3 linked regions of the Homo sapiens genome follow. The protein of the gene in region 3 interacts with the protein of the main gene of each other region in a biochemical or structural test. Each region holds a gene or a part of one and is shown on either strand. Other genes may lie near its edges.

Evidence for each region.
Region 1: the proteins of TOP1 (region 3) and CDK8 interact in a test that uses a peptide from one of them, tested with the Homo sapiens proteins (one study listed by BioGRID).
Region 2: the proteins of TOP1 (region 3) and GRWD1 interact in a test that uses a peptide from one of them, tested with the Homo sapiens proteins (one study listed by BioGRID).

The regions. Positions count from the first base shown.
Region 1 is NC_000013.11:26,390,031-26,393,782, forward strand, and holds part of CDK8 (cyclin-dependent kinase 8), read left to right. Parts: intron 1-3,336; coding exon 3,337-3,480; intron 3,481-3,752.
Region 2 is NC_000019.10:48,444,066-48,447,817, reverse strand, and holds the start of GRWD1 (glutamate-rich WD repeat-containing protein 1), read right to left. Parts: upstream 1,836-3,752; 5' UTR 1,813-1,835; coding exon 1,626-1,812; intron 1,434-1,625; coding exon 1,316-1,433; intron 1,138-1,315; coding exon 975-1,137; intron 1-974. UniProt on the Homo sapiens protein: Histone binding-protein that regulates chromatin dynamics and minichromosome maintenance (MCM) loading at replication origins, possibly by promoting chromatin openness.
Region 3 is NC_000020.11:41,031,688-41,035,439, reverse strand, and holds part of TOP1 (DNA topoisomerase 1), read right to left. Parts: intron 1-3,752. UniProt on the Homo sapiens protein: Releases the supercoiling and torsional tension of DNA introduced during the DNA replication and transcription by transiently cleaving and rejoining one strand of the DNA duplex.

The sequences.
Region 1 (3,752 bases), on a different chromosome or scaffold from region 3:
AATTACAAAATGGAACCTTTTCTTTAATACCAGCCTCTACCACACAATCCCATTCCTCCTGTCTCCTGCAGAGGTAGCCTAAAGATTAAAATACTCAACAAATTTCTCACACCACCATTAAAGCTGCTTACCAAGAACTTCCCCAGCATTTTGACTTCCTTGTTTGATAGCTGAATTGTGAGCAGGTGATAGAAGAGCCTTTCTAGTTGAACATACAGATAATTTGCTGAATACATTCCATTTAATGAAGGGGTTACATCTGTTACGAAGCTACTAAGAAGGAGCAAAAGCATAGGGAAAAAAATCTGATCAGAACGCATCAAACTCACATATGCCCCATCTACTACAAACAGATTGTAGTGCTGTGCTGGTTTATTCCGTTGTGCAGAACTGCAAGCTGAGTCACTAAACCAAAGAGAGGAAATAATAGGTTAGTAAACATTGTAATCCCAGGAACTAAGTTTAATTCACTTTTGAGTGTTTTGTTTTTTATTTTTGTTTGTCTGATTTACTTTGGGGAAAAGGCTAAAAAAAGGGATATCAATCTCTAATTCAGTGCCACTAAAGTAGTCCTAAAAGTCTTACTGAAGTATGGACTTTTAAGCTCAGGTGTTTGTCCTCAAATAGCTGCATGGCCACTAAATGTGAGGCATTCTGCTAAGTGGGAAATACACATTAAAATAGAGAAAATGAGAATTTCTTCCCTTTTATCAAAACAAGAAGCTTGCTATTACTACACTTGTTGATTCAAATATTATTGAGCAAAGTCTTTTCTCCTCCCAAATTTGGTCTGTATAGCATGCCAATTCCTACTATTTCCTTTGCCTGGTTAGCTCAGTAGCTACCTATAAGCATCACACATTTTGAGAAGTAGATGAAACTTATATGTTTTTAATTTGGAAAGCCATTTTATAAGGAGTTTGGCAGGCAGGTGAACACTAAAGAGACTTTCCATGAATTGGGCACAATCTAAAAAAAAAAAAAAAACAAGGTAGGAAAAAGAAACTTATTTACAATAATTAGAAATTTATCTGCAATAATAGCCTGATCAGCTGACTCAGAGTTAATGATTAATGTATGGGTCAGGATTTTGAAGAAAGGAAGAATGGTAAAATTGACAAAGGTGAGAGAGAATAGCAGTTATAAAGACAGAAGAGTTACTAGATGGGAGGGAGTTAAGCAAGGTTCAATAAGTTATTTTTCCTGTTGACTGGACTTTTTCTTTAAAAAGCAGTGTAGCTTTGCATACATTTTTTCTGTGAAATAGGGTCTTGCTATGTTGTCAAGGCTGGATTCAAACTCCTGGGCTCAAGCGATCCTCCCGCCTCAGCCTCCTGAGTAGCTGGGACTACAGGCATATGCCAGTATGCTCAGCTAAGAGCAGTGTAGCTTTAATTATAGCTAAACTACTTACCTTTCATCTTCCTTTACATATTTTATTTTCTTCTTTGGAATTTTTAATAACTAACCAGATGAATTGTTACAGTGTTTATTGGGTGTGCTGTAAGTAGAATTTTAAACATGCAAAGCCATCCATCATCCCTTTTTGTGATCCTACTTAGCTGCCTATGTGGCCATTGATTATCAAAGGTTAGATTTATAGGGTATACCCATATAAAAAGAATAATCACAAAATAATTAATTTTCCCATATACCTTTCGATGACAAAAACAAAATAGGTTGGCCTATGTTTCTTGATGAGACTTTTCCATATGATGGTATTGGCTAGGCTTGGTTCTCTGATATGTAAATACGATGTCATTTTTTAAAATCACTTGCTGCAGTCAGTGTGAATCTTTAAGTAAATAGGTGATTAACTTGTTACTTTGAAATGTAAATATGTGAAATTTTAGATTAAATTAAATATCTCTATTCCAGTTTTGGAATTTAGGAATTCTCATTTTAGGTTTTTTCTTATTTCCTGTTTAAGTGACAGTTATTAACATATCTGAACAATCAGCTTTGATAAAATAGTAATTTTGATTTGTTCCCTTTGGTTATTTATATTTGTCACAGGTATTGGTTAAGTCAGTCAAAAACCATGTGTTGAGGGTCTGCTATATGCACACCATTGTACTTAGTTTAGGATTTGTTAAGAGTAGAAATGAAATATTTTCAGCTTTAAATTCTAAATTGGCAAATAGATCTTACCTCTACTAATAGTTCTTTTGAGTACAAATTTAATTTGAATGAAAGTAAATCTGTATCTTGTGAATGAAAGGAATTTACTTTGTTGTGTACAGAGAAACCCATTTGCCTGGCTTTTGTCAATAATTCATTTGAATTTATAACCCTTTTTTTTTTTTTTTTTTTTTGAGACGGAGTCTTGCTCTGTCGCCCAGGCAAGAGTGCAGTGGCGCGATCTCGGCTCACTGCAGCCTCTGCCTCCCGGGTTCAAGCAATTCTCCTGCCTCAGCCTCCTGAGTAGCTGGGACTATAGCCGCGTGCCGCCATGCCCAGCTAATTTTTGTATTTTTAGTAGAGACAGGATTTAACTATGTTGGCCAGGCTGGTCTTGATTTCCTGACCTCGTGATCCGTCCTCCTCAGCCTCCCAACATGCTGGGATTATAGGCATGAGCCACCACACCCGGCCGAATTTATAATCCATGTTAACAGTAATATTTTGCTTTTGCTTCCTGTCCTTTGCATTAAATACTTAAATTTGCAAAATCTGATACTGCTTATGGCATCAAGAACCACTTTGGAAAAAAAACTTTGTTAAAGTAGAAATGCTGTTAATTCTTAGGCGTTTTGAGGTCGGACATTGTCTCTTGGTGGAATACCACCTTACTGATTAGTGCTAACATGAGAGGGTAATTATTAGACCTTGCAAATTAGCAAGTAAATAAAATAAAAAATATTTTATCACAAAAATTTACACTGATTATGTTAGGCGAGTGCCCAATTTCAAATACTGTTTGGGTTTTCCGTTTGTTTTTGTTTAGTTTTCTTTGGTTGTAGTTCCCATGCTCCATATGCAGCTTTACTGTAGTTCACAGAAAAGGTATCACCTGGACATTGAAAACTCACCAAAATCCAGCCAGTACATTTAATTGGGCTTAGAGTGAAACCATTTGGGTGGTATGGAGGTATACAGAATGAAAAATCGGGGTGGAGGGCATGGGAATATATACTTATAATAATGTTTCATGGTATTTAGTAATTATAATTGCTTAGGAATTAATATGAGTTATTAGGGAAAGAAAGAAAAAAACACTCCCCAAGAAAATAAAATTGCATTTTCTTTTGGAAAGAACCACTTTATTTTGCACCTTTCTTTTTCTTTTTTCCTTGCCTATTTTTCTTTCTTTTTTTTTTTCTTTTTGTTTTAAAGATATTTGGGCTATAGGGTGTATATTTGCAGAACTACTAACGTCAGAACCAATATTTCACTGTCGACAAGAGGACATCAAAACTAGTAATCCTTATCACCATGACCAGCTGGACAGAATATTCAATGTAATGGGATTTCCTGCAGGTACACATTATTCGTTTTTGTTTTTGTTTTTAAATCACTGTTGTTTGAACTTAGATGTCTTCGTTGGAGAGGTATATATTTTTAGCTGATGGAAGCTACTTTTACTTGAGTCTTTGTTTTTTGACTTGCATTTATCAAAGATCCGTAGAAACAGCAAAATTTGTAGAGTTTACATATTGGCATGGAAATATTTATGGGTTTCCTGAATTTCAGGACTGTATTTTTGTTTCATCTTGTTTTACTTTTTTGTTTTGTTATTTGGTATTTGAAAT
Region 2 (3,752 bases), on a different chromosome or scaffold from region 3:
ATGTTACCAAAGAGAAAAGTGAAGAACATAAACCATATCCTCATAATCTAAAACAGTACCTAACATGTAATGACACTGATCATAATAGCTAAATTGTATAAAACTATGTGACAAGTACTTTTCTAAAAACTGAAGGAGGCCGGGTGTGGTGGCTCACGCTTGTAATCCCATGACTTTGGGTGCCCGAGGCGTGCGGATCAATCACTCGAGGTCAGGAGTTTGAGACCAGCCTAGCCAACAAGGCGAAACCTTGTCTCTACTAAAAATACAAAAAATTGGCCAGATGCGGTGGCTCACGCCTGTAATCTCAGCACTTTGGGAAGCCGAGGCAGGCGGATCACGAGGTCAGGAGTTCACCACCAGCCTGATCAACATTGTGAAACCCCGTCCCTACTAAGAATACAAAAATTAGCCGGGCGTGGTGGCGCGCACCTGTAATCTCAGCTACTTGGCTGAGGCAGGAGAATCGCTTGAACCTGGGAGGCAGAGGTTGCAGTGAGCTGAGATCATGCCATTGCCCTCCAGTCTAAGCGACAGAGCAAGACTTCATCTCAAAAAAAAACCAAAAAACAAAAAATTAGAAGGGCCTGGTGGCAGGCGCCTATAGCCCCAGCTACTTGGGAGGCTGAGGCAGGAGAATCCCTTGAACCTGGGAAGGGGAGGTTGCAGTGAGCCAAGATCGCACCACTGCACTCCAGCCTGGACAACAGAGCGAGACTCCATCTCAAAAAAAAAAAAAAAAAAAATGGGCCAGGCACGGTGGCTCACGCTTGTAATCCCAGCACTTTGGGAGGCAGAGGTTGCAGTGAGCCGAGGCTGCGCCACTGCACTCCAGCCTGGGTGACAGAGCGAGACTACGTCTCAAAAAAAAAAAAAAAAAAAAGAACATGAGGAGGTGTTGGGAGTTATGGACACAGGGGATGGGTCAGATGTGTTTCAGAGTATGCAGAGCAGGCTCCTGGGACCATACTTACCCGAACTCGGTTGATGCCACCATAGTGGGGCACCATGGCCAGCTCCAGCTGAGGTTTCCGCTCTTCTTCATCCTCTTCATCTTCCTCCTCTTCTTCTTCATCACTGCCCTCTGAGGGTGGGGGCTTTGTCCCATGCAGATTGTGCATCCGAAGCATCATCAGTCTGGGAGAAATTGTGGGGTGAGTTAGGCACTAGATTCCAGGATTCTTAGGAAGGAGAGAGGCTGGAAACCCAGACTCCTGGATCTGCGAGAGGCAGAAACTGGAAGCCCTAACTCCTGGGTGCTGAGGAAGGGGCTGGAAACTGAGCCTCCTGGTCCTGGAAAAGCCTCGGGTCTTACCTGTTGCTCTGGGCGCTCTCAGCCTGGGTCCCAGCACACAAGTAAAGTGTAAGAGGAAGCTCTGTCCGGTTGTCTCCCAGGTGATCCCGGACTATGTCAAAGCTGAGACAGGGGGCGCCTGGGGATGGAAGGCGGGGTTTACGAGTTAAGACGGGACAGTAAGAGCTCAGTCCCCACCTCCCTCATGGATCAACCGCCTCCGGTATGAAATCACTTCTCTTAGACCCCAGCCTTCTCTTCCCGAGCACCTCTCAGGTTAAAGGCTCGGGATCAGCCACCTCAGGACCCTGGAGTCCGGACTCAGCCCTACCAGTCTGCGCTCGGTGGTAGAGCACATAGGCCTCCTCGTCCATGACCAGCTCCTCCCCTTCGCGTAGCGGCGGCCCCCGGCCGGGCAGGTAGACCTGGGCCGGGCCCTCGGAACTTGTGTCGCCGGACTCGGCTTCCATGGGTTCCCCGGTTTCACACGTGCGCCGCCGACCCTTGCGCGCCGCCATCTTCGAACCCTCTCGCTGCTGACACCCGGTAAGAGCGTCACTTCCGGGTTTCGCTTTCCGCCTAATGAGATCCGCCCTACTGCGCGGTTACCTTGGAAACTCCTGGGACCGCTAATCGGAGAGGGTGCGGAAACGCTGGAGGAGAACTCAGGTAATGGCGCCAGCGAAAGAAGCCTGCGGATACGGAGAAACTGCATCTTCGCGTGACTTTGGGCGCTGTTCCTCGCGGTAGTGGCAAGGCCTTCTGGGAGTTGTAGTTCTACGGGAGGCTTGTTTTCCCCATTGTCCAGTTTGATTCCGAGAGCGTTCTTTCCAGTTAATTAATTATTCATATATGCAAATTTGCTCTTTCACTGGCAAGGAGACTGAGTTTCTACTCCCCGAGGACCCATAAGGCCGGTTTCTTTTCCTCTCTCTGTTGTGATGGCTTTCATTTGTTTCAAAAATGCTTTCTTGTAGACAGGATGGATATTATCTGTAAGTTAGGCGGTTCAATCTACCCTCTAGGGGCAGTCAATTGCCTAACCAGACATTCACATTTCAGCTCTGGTCAGCGAGCACTTAATCAGAAAGTCCACCCTCTGGAGGCAGCTATTACAAGTGCTTCGTCTCTCTTTATCGCCCATCAGCACCAGCGGTTTGGCTAATTGACATAATGAAATGTTAGAAATAGATTCTCATTGGTGAGATTAACAGCATTCAAGATAATGCGGATTGGCTGGGATATGTCAGACACTCTCCTAGCTTGCATGAACAGGATATTGAGAATGTAGCAAGCCTTGGTACCTATAGCCATAGGAAATAAAACCATACCTTTGATCTTAATATGTTTTGTCTCCGGGATCTATCTCACCACTCTCTTGGGGTCTCTTATCTGCCCCAGTACCCTCTCGACTTTCTTTTCAGGGTCTCTTCCCACCTCCTCTTTCTTGGTCTTTGTCTCCCCAGGCACCTCCTTTCAGAGTCTCTGTTCTCTCTCTAATTCTGTCTCCTCTTCCCCTGTGGGACTTTTGTGTTTCTGTTTCCTCCAGAGAATTTGAGGGGGGCTAACAGATACGGAGCTTAGGCTTGGACTGAGGAGGCATAAAAACATGGTTTATTCCAAACACTGCAATGTGGAATAAGAGAGTGGGAAGGGAAGTTGGTGGAGAAGTGTGGACTCCCAGACCCTCCCCTCCGCAACCCAGCCCCAGACCCGGCTGGAGATCTGGGCAGAGGAGGCTTTTTGGAGGTCTGCTGGGTCATCACTGAAGGGTCGCAAATAAGGGTTGGATTTGGAGAGGATGTGCTTGGTGGCAAGTGGGGTGGTCCGGAGGTGCGGCAGGGTGGGAAGTTTTGGCTTCAGGGAGGTTGGGTTCATCGCGGTGCAAGGGAAGGCGGGGCTTCCGTTGGGGACGTGTCCTAGGTCAGAGTAGGGAAAAGCGACCGAGGGTGGAAGAGGAGGAGGGGGTGTCACGGTTTGATGTCAAGGGTCACAGTCTGGTCGGGGCACAGTCTGGGGTTCGGGTCACAGTTTGGGGTCAGGGGTCACAGTCTGGAGTCGGATGACCATTTTAGGAGTCGGATGTCACAGTCTGGGTCAGGGGTTTCTGTGTGGCGGGGCCAAGGTCTGGGGTCACAGTTTGGCGAACGCGTCTCACAGTTTTGAGTCCCAATGGATGAAAGGTTAAAAACGGGCTTCCCCGGAGGCGCGGCTGGGGCCGGGGAGCTGCACAGTGATGTGGGGGCCACGGCCCCGGGCGTGGAGGTGGGACGCGGGAGTGGCGTGAACCCCCCACCTCCCGCCCCATCTGGTGACGTTAAAAAGCCCTTGTCGGGTTTAAAAAAAAGTCCGGTGGGCTCCAAGGCCCCCGCCCCCTCGTTCTCAGGCTGGGTGATAGTTGAGGGACCAAATCCTCTCCGGCTTGCGGTTCCTCCAGAACCAGGGGGCGCAGGACGCT
Region 3 (3,752 bases):
GAATGCTAATGAACTGTGTTCTTTAGGCTCCTTGAATCCACAGAAACAAAAATGTTAATTTCAAAGGCTCAGAGGGGAATTAATTGCCTGGTAGAGATGCCTCCCCACCCCAAATCTGATGGGAAGGGTAGAAGGGAGATGGTAAATTAAAACATTTATTACACATTTCAGAAAAATTTAGCAGACAGGTAAGTGAGTGAAACTAGAAGCTTAAGACAACAAATGAAAAATGAATACCTACCAAAAAGAAATTAAGGGTCAGGCACAGTGGCTCATGCCCAGCACTTTGAGAGGCTGAGGTGGGCAGGCTGCTTGAGCCCAGGGGTTCAAGACCAGCCTGGGCAACATGGCGAGAAACCTCGTCTCTACAAAAAATGCAAAAATTAGCCCGGCGTGGTGACATGCACCTGTAGTTCCAGCTACTTGGGAGGGTGAGGTAGGAGGATCGCTTGAGCCCAGGAGGCAGAGGTTGCAGTGAGCTGCAATCACACTACTGCGCTCCAGCCCGGGCAACAAACAGAAACCCTGTCTGCCCCCCACCCCGCCCAAAAAAAAAGTAAAGGAAAGAAGTTAAAATTAAAAGTTGCCTACCTTCCTTGGAATTTCTTTCTTACTAAACGTTAAGAGACATAAATGACACACATAAAGACAGTTAATACAAACTTCGATACAGATAGCCAAAGTTGATATTACGATCTATATACTCCAGAGATATGCATGAGATACCAGTAACATCACTTCTCTCCCAGTGTGAAAAATATCTAGGATCTTTCCTATACACACAGAAAATGTTCAACAATATCTATTTACTATTAAATCATTTCAGCAAACTATCAGCCATTTCTCATAACGCCACCAAAATACCATCAATATCTAACAGACATTCCTCTACAAGCTTCCCCGCAACCCCCAATCAAACTTTGTCCACCCTGCCCTCATTTACATCCCTCTCCACCCTTCCCAGGCCCTATGCTATCAACACAGCACATACTGTCCACATCTAGATAGGCAGGTGGCAGGGAGGGTGGGGGTTGGCAAAATGCTAATTATTCCAACCCTGGCCTCTATTTTAGATTTTCTACTGCAGCTATTGGCCTGGAGCCATGGGGATGGAAAGCTGCTGCTCAAACTTGAGATGTATGAGGCATGGAAATAGGGAGAAAAGACAGTTCCAAATATTACTACTCGAAGTTTAAACACAATCTGAAAGCTTCCTTTAAACACAATACCCATTCGCCTCTTAAGGACTAGTTTGGAAGTCTCTAAACTTTTTACCTTAAGAAATCCATGTGTCAACTGTTTGCCTAAATGCCCTTATTATCCAAAGTTAATGGTTTCAAAATAATTAAGGGATAGTCAGATAATCTAAACCATACAACACAGAAAATTCACTCAACTGACTCTCACCTCCACATCCAATATATTTTACTATTCTTTCAATAGGGTTTTTTTTTTTAAACCTCCAGGTCCAATGTCAAAATACTCATTTCAAACATTTCCACAGCTTCATTCAAACTAATTACATTTGAATTCATTTTCCCAAGCAAACACAGTTTACTGGAGTTCGACACAGTTTCACATGGGAAAGATGCAATCCCTCACAAAACACACTTCTGAGGAAACGACTTTGGATTTGAAGAATATCAGTTTTACTTTGCACTAAAAAGATGGCAAAAGGCAAAAGTTGATAATGATGTGTCATATAAATATGCATTCATGTCCAACTAATATGAAATAACATGGTTTTAGTATAATCTGAAACTTCTAAAATGATATGTATTCAGAAAGCACAACAGAATCATTTTCCATACCATTAGCAGCAGGGACAACTGTTACTATATAATTAATATACAACAAAGCTGTATATTAGAAGGCAAACATTTTTTTGCACCTCCCCACCCCACACATGCACTGAAAACAAGCAAAACAAAAAAACCTCACAGCCCAATTTTGGAATATAAACTTTAAGACATGTTATTTAATAATCTGAACAAACTAATGAATGTCTTTCCAACTCTCTCAATTCCCCATCTTTATGCTGACAGCAAGGGGAAAAAGTCAGACTCAATTCCTTTTTTTTTTTTTTTTTTTTGCTGCTATTGGTTAAAATGAGATTTGGGGACTGACCTTGGTTTCCTATTTTCCATTTTACTCTATCTACTGAACCAAAGAAAAGCAGGAGTTGGTGACCGTTACTGCTAGCTATATTATTTAGTTTGCACCTTTCAAGCCACAACGTATTTCTGATTCTTTTAGTGATGCCTGGATTTTCTTGTTTTTACTAGAAACATCCAATCCGAGCCTAAAATTTGTTTGTGAGATCTGATATGCTGGTAAACTAAAAAAACACATATTGACAAGCAACTTTCTTTTATGTCAAAGCATAGTATAAAAATCCTAGCGGCTCACTAATTCTAAAAAGGTGCCTCAAGGAGTCCAGTTGCAATGTAAGGGAAGAAAACCACCCTGGAGCATAATGCTTAAGTATTTCCTGATTGAGTCTGAGGATGCTGCAGATTTCATTTGGCGGTACCATCACTTTTCAGTTTTAAAAATGTAGTGGCAATTTTCAGATAGCCACATCATCAGCTATCTGAAATTCCCCCACCGCAATCAGCTATGCTACCGCCCATCCCAACCCATACCCAACAGACAGAAGTACAACTATCTATTAGCATCAGAAACAATTCATATTTAATTACCTTCATCCAATTTGATTCCATTAAGCCAACCAGAATCAGCACAAGATGATGTCAAACCATGATCCTATATATCACTTCTTAGACTAAAGACTGATGGAGCCAAGTATTGTGCTTTGCTAAGGGGGTCAAATGGGGGAGAACTCCCTATCTCCATAGCAGACAGGCAAAAACTTCAAGACCTCTGAAACAGCAGAAGAATCGCTAACACTTTAACCTGGTATTACCATTATCAATTCTACAGATAGCTACGCAGCCTGTACAGTACTGTAATAATGACTCAGCCCCACTACAGTTAGTTCTACCAATACTTAGGAAGTCTTTTCACTTAGACTTAGATATGGTTTCTGCTCCAAATTCCTAACTCACTGTCAACATTTTAAATATAAATAACAGAGTCTCCCAGCAGTTGAGTATGGGTCAGAATGTTCTAAATTACATGCAAAGAGCTACAATTTTAAATATTGCGAAGAATGAGCTCCAAAGTGGGGGGACGGGGGGGAATCTTTTATATCTTAGGGGATGAGGGCAGGCAAAATGAGAGACGTTTGATTTTAATATATGAACTTGTACAGTTAATCTGTAAGATGGGTTAGGCCCTCTTAAAATCACGCTTAAACAATCTCTTAATACAAAGTTCAATAATGACATGTCTGGGCATAATTAAACATTGATTTCTACTTTTTTTAAAGTTTTTTTCATAGTTACATAAATCAATCACTGGTTAACAATGTATTACTTGAGATAGCAAGCATAGTTACCAACACCACATCTTCCAGACAATATTCACAAAGAATAATTACACCAATGTCAGAACTTTATGGTGGCAGATTCTCTTCAAAAAGCATGTTTAGATAAAAAGCAAATGACAAATTATCAAATCCTTCCTTCTCTCCTTTTTCAGCTCTGTAAGAAAATAGAGATTTGTGGCTTTTTATTTTTTCATGCTAGTATCATATAGTATCACTCTAGCATAGTGGCTCAGCTCATGGGATTTAGAGTGGCCAACTCACAGCCCTTGGGCAAGCTAGTAAATACACTGAAGCCTCAGTT